2 linked regions of the Homo sapiens genome follow. Changing the gene in region 2 together with the main gene of any one other region gives a genetic interaction. Each region holds a gene or a part of one and is shown on either strand. Other genes may lie near its edges.

Region 1 (7,608 bases), on a different chromosome or scaffold from region 2:
GCTGAACCCGGAAACCTGTGATGTGACATGAAGGCTGAGAATTCCCAGAAATGTTAATACTTTTGGTCTTAGAAACTAACCAACTAAAAAAAAAAATCCCTTGCCAGTAAGAGGTAGGCTACATTTAAAATAATTTCTGACTGAAGAAGTCCTACGTACCGCTTGTCATATACATATGTAAAGATAATTTAAAACCCTAGGGTATACCCTTTTCAAATGCAGAGTTTATAGTTTCCAAGGGGAGGAGGGCAGGGGAGGAGTAACCAGGACCTTTCCTGCCAGTCTTCCAATCGCGATAGCTCGTTTTGGCTGTGAATTTCCCCCCTTCCCCTCCCCCTCCCGTTAATTAAATAAACGCTGGAAGCGTGTGTTTACCGCACACGACTCGGCCCTCGGGGAACTCTTTTTCTACGTCTCTCCTACTCTTAAACTCCTCAACTCACAGAGGGTTGGAGAGCTGGCACCATGAGCTTCCAGTTCCTACGGGTGAGAAAAGAGGTGTCTGTGTGGAGGGCAGGTGCGACCCCGGGGGCTAGCAGAGAGGAGAGGCTGCGGGAGGACTCGCTGCGAAGGGCGAGGGGTGGCGCTGGGTGGGACGGGCGCCTGGGGCCGTGCAGGGTGGCTCCTGGGTGCTGCCCGGGCTGCCTGTCGCCCAGTACTGGCGCAGGAAGACGGGTCCGCGCAGCGTCTGGCAACAGTGGCCTGCTCCACGCCTGGAGGCGACCAAGTTCTGAGTTAAAGGCGCCGGGCTTAGCCGGGAAGTGTATGGCGACCCAGAACACGGAGCGGAGAAGGCCTCAGGGGACACGAGGCTACCGCCTTAGTCCTCGGGCCTGCGCTCCGAGCGGTTAGGGTGCGTACGGATGGGCTCCGGGATGTTAGTGGAGAGGTGACAGGAGTCTACCATCCCACGGCCAAGCGTGTGAGGCCTCCGGCGGGCGGGGGTCCCCCCCGGGGCAGGGCAGGGGGAGAGTCAGGCATGTCTCTAACGGGCTCCCTAGTAGAACCGCTAGGAAAGTGGCCTTCAACCCTAGGCACCTTTGTGGCTTTCAGGTAGTTGGGCGACTAAAAATTCACTTTTGCCTGCTGTGAAATGGGACAGGTGGTTGTCAGGTTAGAGACTGTGCCCACGAAGTCTCGTTTGGCGGGCCGGGACTGACGTGGACCCGGGCCCTCCTCGGAAGCTTGGGAACCTGTGAGCCCCTCAGCTCCTCGCCTCACTTTGCCTGTTTGAAAAAAGGAGTTGTTTGAGAGGAAGAGTTAAGGCTCAAAAGGTTCTAAACGAAGAGCATGCGGCCTGACGCGGAGCGCAAAGAAGCGAGCAGTGAACTGAATCTGGTGGGACTGAGACCAGAGGCGTCTGTATGCGGCGGCCGCTTCGCGCCCTATTAAAGCAATCTGTTATTTACGATAATCATTTTTGTAATTATTTTGGAGTGGCTGTGACTTGATGTCTGTGGTGCCCCAGGGCATGCCCTTACTGGACATAGATACTTCAGGGTGCCCTTTGACGCCAGTGTCGGTCCAGTGGGTGCCAGTGCCGCGAAGGGAGGGTGGCGGGCGTGAATGCCCCCTCCTCCTGGGTTTGCCGCAGGCCCCGGCCTTTCCACCTTGCTTGATCCTGGCGGGTCTGCCACTTACTGAGGTCCCTACCGGCGCTCACGTTGTCCCGAGAGGCGGGACAAACGTCCGGCGCGTGGCGCGGAGTCTGCGAAAGCGCTCGGGGGCCTCCATCTTCTGCTCGGGAGTCCCCTCCCTGGGGCGGGAAGAGGAGTCGCAGATCTGCCCGAATCTTGCTCTACCCGCCTGGCCGCCTTCTTCCGTCTGGGGTGGGGGCAGGGGTGGCGGATGACTCAGGCCTGGGGCCGGGAGCCCTGTTTCCAAAGGCACCACCTCGCGCCTCTTTGGAAGTGGCGCGCTGTTGGGGCGCTCCCGCTGTTGCAGAGGCCTGGTTTGCGGTTTCATAGGGGCGTGGGTCCAGGGCTTCCAGGGAGTAAGTGAGTTTAGGCTCCCTAGGGGGCGGTAGAGGGGAACCCCCGACAACCTTCCATCCTCTTCTCCAGGCGGCTGCGAGGCCTCCGGGGTTCCAGAGGGGTCCCCTTCTGCCGGTGCCGGCTGTCTTGAGCGCGGCCACGCAGTCCGCGTCTTCACGTGGGCAAGGGGCGGGGACGTTGGAGGGAGGCTGTCTTGGATGCTGGAGCCTTCGGTTCCCGGCTCTGCTGAGCAGAAAAGTTGAAGTCAAGGAAGGGTTGAGGCTTCCTCACAAGGGCGCGCGCGTGCCTGGGTGCCGGCCCAGAAGCCGAGAATGTGCGTATTGGGGAAGGGTCTCCCGTGCCGAGAAGACAGAGGATTTGTTCTAGCTGCCTTCCGTACAGAGGGCGCGGAGGTTGCGCTCCAGTTCGAACGCTTACCCATTGGAAAGAGGGCAGCGCCGGGGTCCAGGGAAGCTCCTTGGGAATGAATGGCCTTTGCCAAGCGGTTCCGGATCCTCTGGGTCCTTTGGGCCCACGGCACGGTGCTGCGCGAGCCCTCAGTGCCCATCGGCTCCCTTCGCCTCCTGCGTAGACGCTCCCAGGCGGGGAGGCATATCGGTTCCTCCGGGCAGCTTTGGCTAGTGTTGCTGTGGGAAAGGAGAGCCAGGGCCTGGGATGGGGGATGAGCACCTTCTTGCCCATTCCGGGCCCCAGCGTGCAGGAGGTAAACTTGCCAGCACAGACAAGACAGCTTGTTCAAGCTGCACCTCAGGCCGGGTCAGAGAATAAAACCGAGGGCTAGAAGGCCCAGAATGTCGGACAGCCCAGCGGCACCCGTCAGGGAGTCCCAGGCGCCCGAAAGAGGCGCCGCACCTCTGGCGAGTCTAGGACCCATCTTCCTGGACCTGTGCTCTGGAGTGCCTGCGGGCCTGGGTCTAATTTCTGCTTCTGGCAGGTGTCCCCCTCCCCCGCCGCTAATACCAGGAGCGCTGCTTCTGCGGTAACTTATTTTACCCCCAGAAGCCTGTTTTGGGACCGAAGTGTCAGGGTCCTGTGTGTCTTTTTATGCACTGTTCTCCTTAGTGCAAAGCCCTGCAGATATGCTTGGCCGAAAAGTCTCAGTGGTTTCAACTTCCAGATTTTGTTCCCGCGTCCGGTCGGAAAATCACCTGGGATTTGGCTGCTGTCTAAGGCCGGGGGAAAGTTTCCCTTGGAGGACGCCTATTATTATTATTTTCTTTTAGGCCCACCTGGGTCTAAATAAATGCTAAAGTTCAAACGAACCCGAGAAGGAACAGCGAGGCAGTGGATGCCGCCATTCCGTGGATGGGAGAGTCATGTCTACTGCAGGTGCGGACACCGTACTGATAGGCATTGATTATTGCAAAATCGTATTCAGTATCAAATAGAAATAGTCTTGTCCTCTAATCCCCACAGAATGTTTAAATCCAGCCCAGGGAGCCAGTTGGGGCGTCCCAACAAATACGCCCTCGAGAATTAGCGATGTTCCCCTTACAATGAAAGTCAATTGCTGCATAATAACTGGGCCAAAGAATTTCGTTAGTTTAAATTTTAAAAATTAGTATTGCACTTTGCTTTCAAGTTTGGGTGGCAAGTACCGAAGGGGAGAGGGAAGCAGCGTTTGTGTGGAAGGAAGTTTCGTTTTCTGTCTAAACATGTGGGACCTGGGTGTCTACCTCTCCAGTCGAGAGCTCTCTGCAGGCTCTCTCCCAACTTCCTGCACCTCCTCACCCTCACCTTACCCGTGGCGCTCGGGTTTTATTCCTGCCCGGCGCTTCTTTCCCAGGGCGAGTAGAGGCTTCTGAGTGACCGGCCCGCCAGAGGCAGCTGCAGAGCCGGCGTTCCGCAGGGCAGGGCAGGGCCGGGCCGCTGGGCTGGTCCAGTGCGCGCGGGTTCCCCCTGGCCTCAGCCAGCCGCGGGAGATGCCACTTCGGGCGACAGCGGCGAGACGCCGCTGTCCGCAACTCCTGGGCGGGTAGGACCGTCTGCTGCCTCTGCGGCCCTTGGGGCAGACTCCCCAGGAGTCCCTTCCTCTCTCCTCCCGCCCGGGGGCCGGGACCGCGCTGTGCCCACGGAGGGAACTGGGCGTCTCTGGCGCACTGGGGCTCCAGCTGCATGATCCCAGCTCAGACCTTAAGCCTCAGTGGGGTGTAGGTGGGATGGGATGTGTTTTTAGGAGATGAGGAGACCCCGGTTGTTGAGTCGCTCCCCAAATGCGCAGTTTCTTAACTCCAGGTGACATCCGTCTTTTGGAGGAACGAGTGAAGGCCGTTTAGGCGAAAGAGGGGTGGGTTTCAGTATTTGGATCCCTTCCCCCAGCTCTGCCAATCTCAGGTGTGTTTACGGTGGAGGTGACAGAAGGAAGGCGCGTCGGGGGACCCAGGCCTCGCAGGTCTTCGGCTGTCAACGAGGCACCGCCCACTGACTCCGCGCTTCGTCCCTCACAGCGTGGGGCTCGGCGCTGCGCCAGGCCCGGGTGCGGGGCGGAGCTAGGCTGGGACTGGCTGGGGGCCGCCCCGCCCGGCGCCTGGGCCTCCGCGCCGGCCCCCGGGGAGGAGTTATGATAATTTCCTTCTCATTAAGGCGCTCGGGTCCCCCGGCTATCGCCAGGACACACTGTTCGGGCGCGGCTTTCCCCGTCCGCGGAGCGGTCTTGACACTCGCGGCGGCAGCATCTACGCTCGCAGAGCCGCCGATGCGTGTCCAGTGACCCGGACAGCAAGGCCCGCGCGCGGCGGGGGCGGCGGCAGACGCCTGGTCACCGTGACCCCGATTTTGGATTTACCGCTTGGGGGCTGGGGGGATCCTGGATTTAACTGGCGACTGTTTTGGGGGACGCCGGACGCCATGTTGTGGAAAATAACCGATAATGTCAAGTACGAAGAGGACTGCGAGGTGAGCTGGGGCTCCGGGGTGCAGCCCCGCCCCGCCGAGGACAGTCCGGGAGGCAGGGGCCACTGGACCGAGGTCGGGGACGAGGGCATAGGAGCCCTGGCCTCTCGGTGGGACGGGATCCACTTCTCCGGACACCCCTTAGTCCATTTCTGCGGGGCCCCTTTCCTGTATAGGGCCTTTTCCTAAATAGCCTCCCCTCGGGAACGAGGCCTGGAAAGAGAATGGCAAATCCCACCCACACAGCTTACCGGGCGCTTTCCTAAGCGGCAAACAGCCCTGCTTCCCGTTTTCTCGGAAAAGTGCCCCGTCTGCAACCCTCAGACGTGGCTTTTACGCACGAAGTCTCTGTCCAAAGGGGTCAGATGAGGCTACCTGCTAGCGACACCTTGGCGGACACTCCTCCAAGGCCGGCTTGTCACCTGCCCCGCTACCTCCTCGGGGAAGCACGAAAACAACCGAAGTTTGGCTTTCAAAAGAAGTGGGGGCTGGGGAGTGGTGGTGGGGGTGCCCGAGGCCAGATGGGGCCGTAAGAGCTCGCGAGTGCTCCAGCCTGTCGGACAGGTTGAGCTAGAGTTTCGGAGAGTGGGAGGGAAGAAGGAGGCGGCGAGCGGGAAGAGGAAGAAGACGCAGGCAGCGCTAGGCGAGCTCAGGGGCGCCGGGAGCGCGGAGCTCGGGCTACGGACTCGCGGGAGTTCACTGCGCCTCCGGGCCCTGGAGGGCTGCCCCTGCCCGCAGGCCCGGGCGCTTCCGCCAGGAGGCGACAGCGCCATGTTCCTCCAGGTTCCCGGCGCCCCGAGACCCCTGGGCAGATGGGGACGCATCCTTTAGAAACTGAGTCGGGCCGCCCAGGGGCGAGGGAACGTGCGCGGGCAAGGCTGCCCAATTTCCAGGGTTCTTCATGCCCCCTCTGCGCCCCGACGTGCGAGAACACTGCCCTTGGCAGTGCAGGGCGCCCCCACTTATTACTCCCCTCGGCTGGGCCCGGCCAGCAGGGAGGGCCGCCCTGTGCGCGCGCTCCCTCTTCACTTCCCAGGGCGGCGCAGGGTGGCGGGCCCTGCTTTCCGAGCGCCGCCCGCTCGGAGGTCTTTGTCCCGAGGGCGTGGAAGGGAGGGTCCCGGGGGCGGGGGAGGTGCGCATTTCCCGCGCCGCGCACTCTATCCGCGCCTGCCGCGCTGCCACCTCCAGCAGTCCCTGCGTCATGGGCGGGCTCCACGAGATAGCTCTGCACCGGGCGTCCGGCTCCTTCGCCCCGGGCTCTGGCTCCTTCGCCCCGGGCTCCGGCCACGGACTTTTCTGGCCCAAGACCCAGGGTTCGGACTTGGCGCCTCCAAGCGCCTCGGGCTTGGGAGCAGCGCCTAGACCTTCGCCGCCGGGCTTTGAGAACTCGTTCCCCCAGGTCTTTCACCAGACTCTCCTCCCTCCCCGCACTCTTTGCTTACAACGAAATCCTCGGGGCGCATTGCCCCCGGGTACCTTCCGACCCTGGGCAAGCCCCGCCGGGCGGGGTGCGGTTGGTCCCCCGGGGCCCTCTGCGTAGCCCGGCGATGCCGGCCAGTTCGCAGTAGCGGGGTTTCGCACTAACGGGGTCTCCTGTTTTTTTTTTTCCCTCCAGGATCGCCACGACGGGAGCAGCAATGGGAATCCGCGGGTCCCCCACCTCTCCTCCGCCGGGCAGCACCTCTACAGCCCCGCGCCACCCCTCTCCCACACTGGAGTCGCCGAATATCAGCCGCCACCCTACTTTCCCCCTCCCTACCAGCAGCTGGCCTACTCCCAGTCGGCCGACCCCTACTCGCATCTGGGGGAAGCGTACGCCGCCGCCATCAACCCCCTGCACCAGCCGGCGCCCACAGGCAGCCAGCAGCAGGCCTGGCCCGGCCGCCAGAGCCAGGAGGGAGCGGGGCTGCCCTCGCACCACGGGCGCCCGGCCGGCCTACTGCCCCACCTCTCCGGGCTGGAGGCGGGCGCGGTGAGCGCCCGCAGGGATGCCTACCGCCGCTCCGACCTGCTGCTGCCCCACGCACACGCCCTGGATGCCGCGGGCCTGGCCGAGAACCTGGGGCTCCACGACATGCCTCACCAGATGGACGAGGTGCAGGTGAGCGGCGCTGCGGCTCCTGACCGGACCTGTTCACCCTACGGCCTTCTGCCCCCACCCCGCACTCCTCTAGGCTCCCCCGAACTTAAGGGAATTTTGTCCTCTCTCCCCCAGAATGTCGACGACCAGCACCTGTTGCTGCACGATCAGACAGTCATTCGCAAAGGTAAATAGCAAGGTGGCATCGTCTAACTCTGGTCACACGATCTGGGCTTGTGAAGTTGACTGGCAAGGTTGGGGGTATTTGGTGGCCAGCGTGGGACATTTGTGGTAGAAGGGACTGAAAGGGATTCATGGAAGCTAGATTTTAGGAGTGACAGAAAGGGATTTCCCTCCGACCTCCTAGGAGCTGTCTCTTCATCTCCGGAGTTGTTACTGCCTAGTTTTTTTTCTTGGAAAAATGTCCATGAATTCCAGTGGGTGTTTCACAATGTGAGAGAAAGTCTTCCAGAGCGAGTGAACACTGATTTAACTTGAAAAACAACAAGAAAAAAGTCACAGGCACACCTTCGTTGAGTGGTTGGTTCTGTAACAATTTTAATTGTTGAATAAGTTGTGATTTTATTTTTGATTTCAAACACGTGTATGGAAAACCTCCTTAATTCTGACCTGCAAGAAAAG
Region 2 (7,852 bases):
CTCACTGAGAAAGCAGCTATAAACTGAAACTATATTAAGTACCATTGGTAAAGATACAAAGGTAAGAACAAAAGGAGACAGAAATGTTTTATACTTCTCCTTACCTTCTAACAAGTAAAATACCAATAGTTCCAATTCCCCTTCTAATATAACCATTTGTGTTCCAAAAACTCGGTGAACAAAAATCATCCAGAAATACAGACATTATATATATCACCATGGAAAATATTTCACACTTCTTGAAGGGTTTTTTTGTTGCTATATATCAACTATATGAAACCACTTGTTCACAGTTAGCTTTCCCAAAAACAAAACAGTTTCTAAAACAAAGACTGTTTACATCTCTTAAGAAGCCTTTGTTCCAACAAGACCCCTCTTCAAGAGCTACAACTTCTGGAAAGATTTCCCTTTTTGTGGTTATATCAACAACAAATACTCTCAAACTCTTTCCATTTGGCAAAGGAGTTTGTTAAACAAAGGAGGAAGCAAGTCCCCTCCACACAAAGGAGGTCTCCAAACAGAGTACTGGTTGTATTTGTAGATTATTGGTGCCTCTTTAACCCCTTTCCTCAGGCTGTACTATGTAGCACTCTCAATACAAAATGGTGGCCATCATGTCTGTCTGACATTCAGAGTGAGAAAAAGGCAATTCGATCACACATTTTGCAAAGATTACCATTAATATTCTAGCCAAGATGAGGAAATGGGTAGCCAAGCCTAACCAGAGCAACACTATCTTTTCAGAAAAAGGGCCCTCTAAAAGGCAAAGAACAAGAAAACAAGATAAAGGATTTACCCCAGCCCTGGTATACCACAATACCAACATGGAGGACACCTCCCAGGAACCTGACTCCCCACGTTTTGGTTACTAAGAACTTAGTCAAGTTACCCAATTTCTGAATAAAATCCCATTATGCAAATGTGCAATATTCATATTCACCCTTCCTAGCATGTGACATGAAGCTACATTACTACAGTGTGAAACATGACCTATTATTCAAGAATTAAAACCTTGGCTCTAACCAGCCCTGTTATAACTTCTGCAGGCCTCTTTGCACTAAGAGAAACGTACTTCCCTTAAGCAGCAAGAATCAACCTTGCCCACTTCGCTGTAAGAAATGGATCTATTTTCAAACATTTCCCTCATATTCGCTGGCCAGTTATTTTCTGAAGCATGTATTTCATCTCCATTTTCAAACTTGCTTAAGAAAAACTAAAGTAGGTGTCCGTGTTTTAATTTGGGGCAGGGAAGGGTTAAGAAGCCTTATTTTCAGGGATCTCCCTGAAAACAGCTTTCCAAAACATAACGATTACAAACAGAATCCCTACAACTCAAAATGTCATTACAAAAAGCAAGCTTAAGGGAGAAAGGGGTGGGAAGGGGTCTTCCTCTACTTAGAAGTGGGGGTGGGGGAAGAGAGTGGGGAGAAGATTCTTAAACAGCAGGAAAGGCAGTTAAACCCGCTTCCCAACGGTCCCAGCCCGTCCAACCGCCGCTTAGGCCAACTCGGACTCAGACCCTCCCGAAAGGTGGGCAAAAAAAACAGGGGTGTAGGAGCGCACCCAGTTCCGGCCACGGAGGAAGGAGTTGGCCGGGCTCTCCTCAGCGAACGTTGGAGCCGTTACGGATGGTTTCAGCAACACCCACCCCTCACTCACTGCCCCCAGGCCCGAGGCGCTGTAGACAGGGCTGGAAGGGCTGCGGTGGGTGACTGCCTTTCAGTGCCCGGAGCCTGAGGGCCGGGGGAAACGAGCACGAAATCTTCGGAGGTCTCTCCGTCTGACGTTCCCCTACAAACACGGCCTCGCCCGGACCCCATCCCCACCAGCACAGCCCAGGCCTCCCCGGGGAGCCGAGCGGCTGAGCCAGAAGAAGCCGGGAGTGTGCGCGTTCGGGAGCGCGGGCGGGCATCGGGGCCCACCGCCGCCCGTCCTGCCCCCGCCGCCCCAAAAGTGTCCCCCAGACACTAACGCCCCCCACAAACATCCGCTCCGGGGCTGGACCCGCGGCTCCTCCCCGCCCCCAGCCAGCGCTGGCCGCCCCCTTCTTGACCCCGGCCCGGGGGACACCTGGAGGCCCGGGGACCAGGCGGTGGAGGGGTGCCCTGGTCTGGAGGGTGGGGCGCCCAGGTGAGGGCCGCTCCGGGCCGACGCCGCCACCACACAAAGGACCAGGGGCTCCCGCCGCCATATTGAAAACTTTCCTCCTCGCACGACAACTCGCAAGTCCCCCACCCCCACCCCACCCCATCACACACCCCCGCACCCCGGGAGCGGAGGCGAGGACCAGCCTGCCGAGCCTCGCCGGGCCCACAGTCCTCCCTCCAGCCCGCGCCTCCGCCAGGCTCCGTGAGGAAACTCCCCCGCGACCACCCCCGGCTCCTGCCATCACTCCATCCGGAACCGAACCCGAACCTCCGCACCCGGCCGCCCGAGCCCCGCGGCGACCCGGCCCTCCCATGGCACCGCCGAAGCCCCCGGTTCTCCCACGCTCCTCATCTCCCACCCTGGAGAAGCCCCCGTCTTCCTCCCCCGGCCTCAACTCCGACCTTCTAGGCAGCCCCAAACTTGACGAGGCCGGCGGGGCGACCGGCTCCCCGCCCCCCGCGCCTCGGGCCTCCCCGGACCCGCGCGTCCCCGCTCCCTCCCCCAGCCACGAGCTGGATCCGGGGTGCTGGCGTGACTCACCGGCGGCGGCCGCACCTTACAGATGCCAGTCTGCTCGGCTATGGGCCGGATCTTGTGGATGAAAGCGAAGGGGTCCGCGAACTCTTCCCAGCTGGGTTCGAAGACCGGGCACTCGGGTGGAGGCAGGAACTCGCCCAGCGGGCCCGGGCCCCCGAGGGGCAGCGCCGGGCGCGGGCCTGGGTGCAGTGTGGTGGCCGCCTCCATCACCGCAGGCTGGGCAAGGGCGAGGCGAAGGTGGGCTCCGGGACCGAGGCTGCGAGCTCCGCTCGGTCCGAGACCCGTGCAGACGCGGCTCGAGCAACAGCAAGTCCGAGTTGTACGGGCAACGGCAGCACCTTGGGCTTTTTCAGCCTCCGACGACGACGTCTCGCCGCAAGCCCACGCCGTGCGCCTCCGCCGCCACGGCGAGGAAAAAGAGTCCCACCCCACCCCCATCGACCCACCCTCCGCGCGCGGCTCCCCGCCCCGCCCCCGAATCGGGCGGGGCCGCGCCTTCCGCTGTGGATGGAGTTTATCCTTAGGGTTTCAGTTGAGCCAACTTTTATTGACCATTTACTATGTATCAGAGTTCCTGCCCTGAAGAAGTTAAGTCTGGTAGAAAGGATCAGTCCCATAAGCCAATCATTCAATCACGTCAGTACACAATGGTAGGTGCAGTAAAACCCAGGAGGGGGTTTTGGAAAGAGTATTGGAAACGGAGAAGGATTTTCCAGTAGAGATAACAGCTTGAACATACACATAGCATGTTCATGAGAAGGCAATAGTAGTAATAATAATAATAACGTAACATTTTGGGGCACTTTCATATCCTAGGCACTGTTCTAATTGCATCGCATGATTAATCACACAACCCTATGAGATAGGTACTCTTATTTCCACTTTACAATAAGGAAAGTGAGGCATAGGTAGGTTAAGCAATTTGCCATAATTCACATGGCTAATAAGTGATGGAGACTATTGGGAGGTGGAGATGTTGCAGGGAAAATAATCATCCACAAACAGTCTATGACGAGGTCAGACTTGAGAGGGGCGAAAGACTTGAAATAATCCAGACAAGGAATGATAGGATCTAAATTAAGGCAGTGGTGCTGATAATTATGAGGAAGGGATGCAAAGGTAGGAAATAAAATTAGGACATAGTGACAGATTGAGGGGGGACGACGAGGTATTAAGATTCAGATGTCTGGCGTACCTGCCTGAGTAGATGCTAGCCCGTTGGCATTGCTGGAACATTCACCCCAATTATATACAGAAGGCGAGTTACTCAAGGGAAGAAGATACTGTGTTCATTTCTGGACATTTTGAATTTGAGGTGTCTCTGGTACATACAGGTAGAAATACACAACGGGGTATCCTTCAACAGACTGAAGGGTATAAATCTGAAGGGGCGAGATCAGAATTGGAGATATAAATCTGGGAGTTATGTGCTTATGGGTGATAGCCGCTATTTAATGCTACTGTGTGTAAAGCACTGCTCTAAACGCTCTGCATGTATTAGCTCACTGAGTCTTCACAACCACCATATTGAGTAGGTACGATATTATCCTCATTTTGCAGAGCAGGCAACGGAGGCAAAGAGGTTAACGAACTTTAAGAGATACGAACACTTTTGAGGCGCCTTTTTTCTTTTGGCGGGAGACGGGGGACGGGGGTGGGGGGGTAGTGTCCAGCAGCCTCAGAAAAAAGGAGGAAGCTCAAAAAGTAGAACGTCAACATTGAAATGACCTCTTTCATCCAGAAAGCTGCCAAACGTATGCAAGGAATGTTTGTCAAGATCTTAGTTCGCTTTCAGATTCACCTAGTGGAAGGAAATCTCTTATGCTTAAGAAGTCTTCAATTAAAAGGGGGGATGGGCGTGGGGGGAGAAGAAAACCGCCTTCCCTTCAACAAATTTTTCCCAGAGGTACCGGGCCCAGGAAAGAGTTCACAGTGGTCCTGGGAGAACGTATTCCTTTTCTTAGCTCTCCAGGGCTTTGGGACCTGGAGTCTTTTCCTGCTCCCTACTGCAATGGAGAGTCAAGCCCAGGGGACAGCTAATACACTATTAAAAGAATTATCAGTGCAAGATAGATATGCGATGTGGCAAGTTATAATAGAATCTAGGTAGTGGGTATAGAGGAATTTGATGCAAATTTCTTTTAACTTTACTGAATATTTAATAATACTAAATAAAAGTTGGGTAGAAGAATTATCGTCGATGGCTCTTTGGTGCGCATTCTGGGCCTCCGAGGGTCTTGATGAAGCTCATGTAGTGTCATGTGCTCTCTCGGGAGAGCGTTGACTATTTTCACTCCTAACGTTGGCATCCTACGAGCCAGGTAGGCATAACTTTGAGACAAATTCTAGACTTACATGAGTTATGATTATTATTTAACTGAGATGGACAGGAAGAACAAGCCTAAGAAAATCTTTCCCAATTCTCAGCTGCGTCCTACGATTCCCTCTCGCTCCCAACTCTCAAGGTCTCCCAGTCCGGCTTCCTCCATTTCCGGTAGTGACCCTAAGTGATGAGATTCTATCGCTCCCAGATCAGGCCGCAGCTGTTTGGCTCCCAGCAGACCCGGTGTGACGTTAAGGGACGGGGCGGTTGCCGGCGTCTTGAGGGGAACCTAGGGACCGAGAGGACTCTCCGGGAAGGCAGCCGCTCCCCCGCCCACAACAGACGCTCCCCTTGCCCTTTATGATGTTTACATGGGCGGAGGGATCCCTCCCAGCTGACAGCCACACCGCGCCGGCCCTTCTTTTTTTAAAGAGCCTAGCCACGGGCGCTGACTGGCCGGCAGCCGGGCGCGTCATCCTCCGGGGGCGGGGCCCGGGCCGCATTGTCTCGTCTAGGGCCGGCTGGACGCCCCAGAGGCCGGACCTGGGCAACCCCAGCCTGGAGGTGCCGGGGCCGGAGCTCCCAGAGGGCTGGGTGCGAGGCCTAGGCGGGGTCAGGTTCGGGTTCCTAGGCCATAGCGGAGCTGCAGCCCAGGCGGCCGGAGCGGAACCCAGCCCCGCTCCGAGTGCCACGTCTCCAGGAACCCCCTCCTTACTCTTGGACAACACTCCGCCCCCGCCCGGGCCTCCGTCCCCCAAACCGCCCTCATTTGTGCAGCGCCAGATCCTTCGGACACATCCCTAGGTGTCTCCATCCTCATTCGGTCCATCCAACTCCCAGACCTCACGTCAACCGGCTGCACCCCACTTTCCAGCCTGCGCCCCAGATCTGCAGCCTTCGCCCCTAGATACACCCGCCTGGTGATGAGGCGCTCCTCGCGTTCCTTCCGGTAACCGCGTTGCGAAGACCACGCTGCCGGGTTGCAAACTTGGGGGGACTTCCTCCCTCCCCTCCCCCTGGGCGCCGTGCAACTGCCCTGGGACCGGGTTCTGGGATGAGGGGGGCAGACCGGGCTCCCCAGCGGCCGGCGCAGCACGTAGCGCACGTGTAGGGTCCGCTCCCCACCCCCTCGCCGCCTCTGACAACTTTTCAGGGCTCCAGGTGTCCGTGAGCCTCCCTTCCGCCCTGGCCTCCGGTCTCTGCCTTGCTCGTGCTTCTACCACCACCCTTCCCCTCCCAACCCGGTGGATCCTCTCGTCTCCCCCAGTCTCCAGTGCACCGGCTTTCCCTCGTCCTCTGCGCAGTCCATCTCAGCTCATCTCTCCAATTCAATGCCATCATCTCTCCTCACCATCTCTCGGTGCCCTGGAATGTTTGCTGTCAGATGTCCCCTGTGAAACCCACAAACGCTTGCGATTTGGCCTCCTTGTTTTATTTTGTGTAGTCCTACAACGTCTTGTTACTACCCCCTATTACAACACTTATAACTCAGTATTTGTCTTTTTTCCGCGGTGTCCCTGCACTCTCCCCATACATATTCCTCTCCTGCCAGATTGTAAGCCTCTAGAGGGAAGAAGTAATGTCTCTCTCCTTGGCACCAGGCACGTGGCACACGCTCCACAAATATTTGTTGAAAGGGAGGGTAAATGGCCTTGAGTTTCTGTGGCTACCATTGGCTGAGGATGGAGCTTTGGGCTGGACAAAGAAGAATCTGGTTGACCACATGAAGCAGGAAGGAGGCTCAGAACGGTGTTGAGGGAGCCTCCACAATGGGTGGGCACCACAGGTGAGATAAACCCATCCTCCCCCATTCCCTGCCCTGCTTAATTCCCGGGAACCAGCAACCCCTCCTATGCTATCGTCTACTGCTGAGCTGGTCCCTTATGGTGGACTTCTGTGCTCACTGTTCTGCTTTAGCCCCAGCTGTCGGGGCTGCCCTTGGGGAACAGCTTACACCTTGACCAGGCGCTCATTTCTGGGTTTCTGTTCTTGGGAAGCTGGGTCTGGGTCCTGGGAGCCACCTGGTAACTAATAAATACCTCTTCCTCCTCCCATCTGCTCTTCCTCTCCTGTCCTGGAATCCCTCTCTGATGACTCAGCCCAACTGAGATCCAGGGTAACTGCACCCTCAGTCCTGGGCTTTGGTTTACCTGGGTGTGGGGCTCAAAGGGCTAGACCCTTGTGGGGGTCAGGCGCTGACAAGTGGAACATTCCCACGGTGCTGCCAGCCCTGCCCACGGGGATTGGGAGGGGCAAAGTTAGCCACACCAGGGCTTCAGGGCGTGTTTCTTCCCATTCCAGTTGGGCAACTTGAGAAGCCCTGGACTCCCAAGGAGCAATCCTGTGAGCTGCTTAGAGAAGCTGTGAGGATTAGAGGGAAACTCATGTTCCCTGTTCATCCCGCAGTGGCACCACCAGCACCCCTAATTTGGGTCTCTGGGCTGAGGGGCCCCTGGCAGCATGCTCAATGGCCTTGGATAGCTGGAATGTTTGGAATTGCCTGCATCTTGGATGAAAGTCTTAACAATAGAATGAAAACTGCTGCAACACTGTGTCAGCACTTTACAGACCACCACTGTAAATTCCCAGTTGAAACTGGGAATTTGGAATTCCATGTTCAACCAAATCATGCTGAGTGCCCAGCACAGCGTCTGACACACTAAATGCTACAGGTGAATTCCCTTTTTCCTCTTTCCTGGCAGGAAGCGGGGATAGGGGAACCACTAGAAATACTGTAATAACATGAATAAGACAAGGCCATTAGCCGGGAGCAAATCATAGAACATCAGCCCTGTGAAATGAGTGGTATTAGTGTTACCATTTTTCAGATGGAGAAATTGAGAC

The links. A genetic interaction does not mean that the proteins touch.
Region 1: of KDM5B (region 2) and TFAP2C, changing one enhances a phenotype caused by changing the other (phenotypic enhancement), as found in Homo sapiens cells (one study listed by BioGRID).

Annotation. Positions count from the first base shown.
Region 1 is NC_000020.11:56,624,704-56,632,311, forward strand, and holds the start of TFAP2C (transcription factor AP-2 gamma), read left to right. Parts: upstream 1-4,602; 5' UTR 4,603-4,841; coding exon 4,842-4,889; intron 4,890-6,501; coding exon 6,502-6,987; intron 6,988-7,101; coding exon 7,102-7,153; intron 7,154-7,608. UniProt on the Homo sapiens protein: Sequence-specific DNA-binding transcription factor that interacts with cellular enhancer elements to regulate transcription of selected genes, and which plays a key role in early embryonic development.
Region 2 is NC_000001.11:202,805,414-202,813,265, forward strand, and holds the start of KDM5B (lysine-specific demethylase 5B), read right to left. Parts: upstream 3,009-7,852; 5' UTR 2,893-3,008; coding exon 2,689-2,892; intron 2,597-2,688; exon of another isoform or gene 2,550-2,596; intron 1,887-2,549; exon of another isoform or gene 1,564-1,886; intron 1-1,563. Other genes in the region: uncharacterized protein LOC124904583, read right to left, coding at 5,622-6,146. UniProt on the Homo sapiens protein: Histone demethylase that demethylates 'Lys-4' of histone H3, thereby playing a central role in histone code. Does not demethylate histone H3 'Lys-9' or H3 'Lys-27'. Demethylates trimethylated, dimethylated and monomethylated H3 'Lys-4'.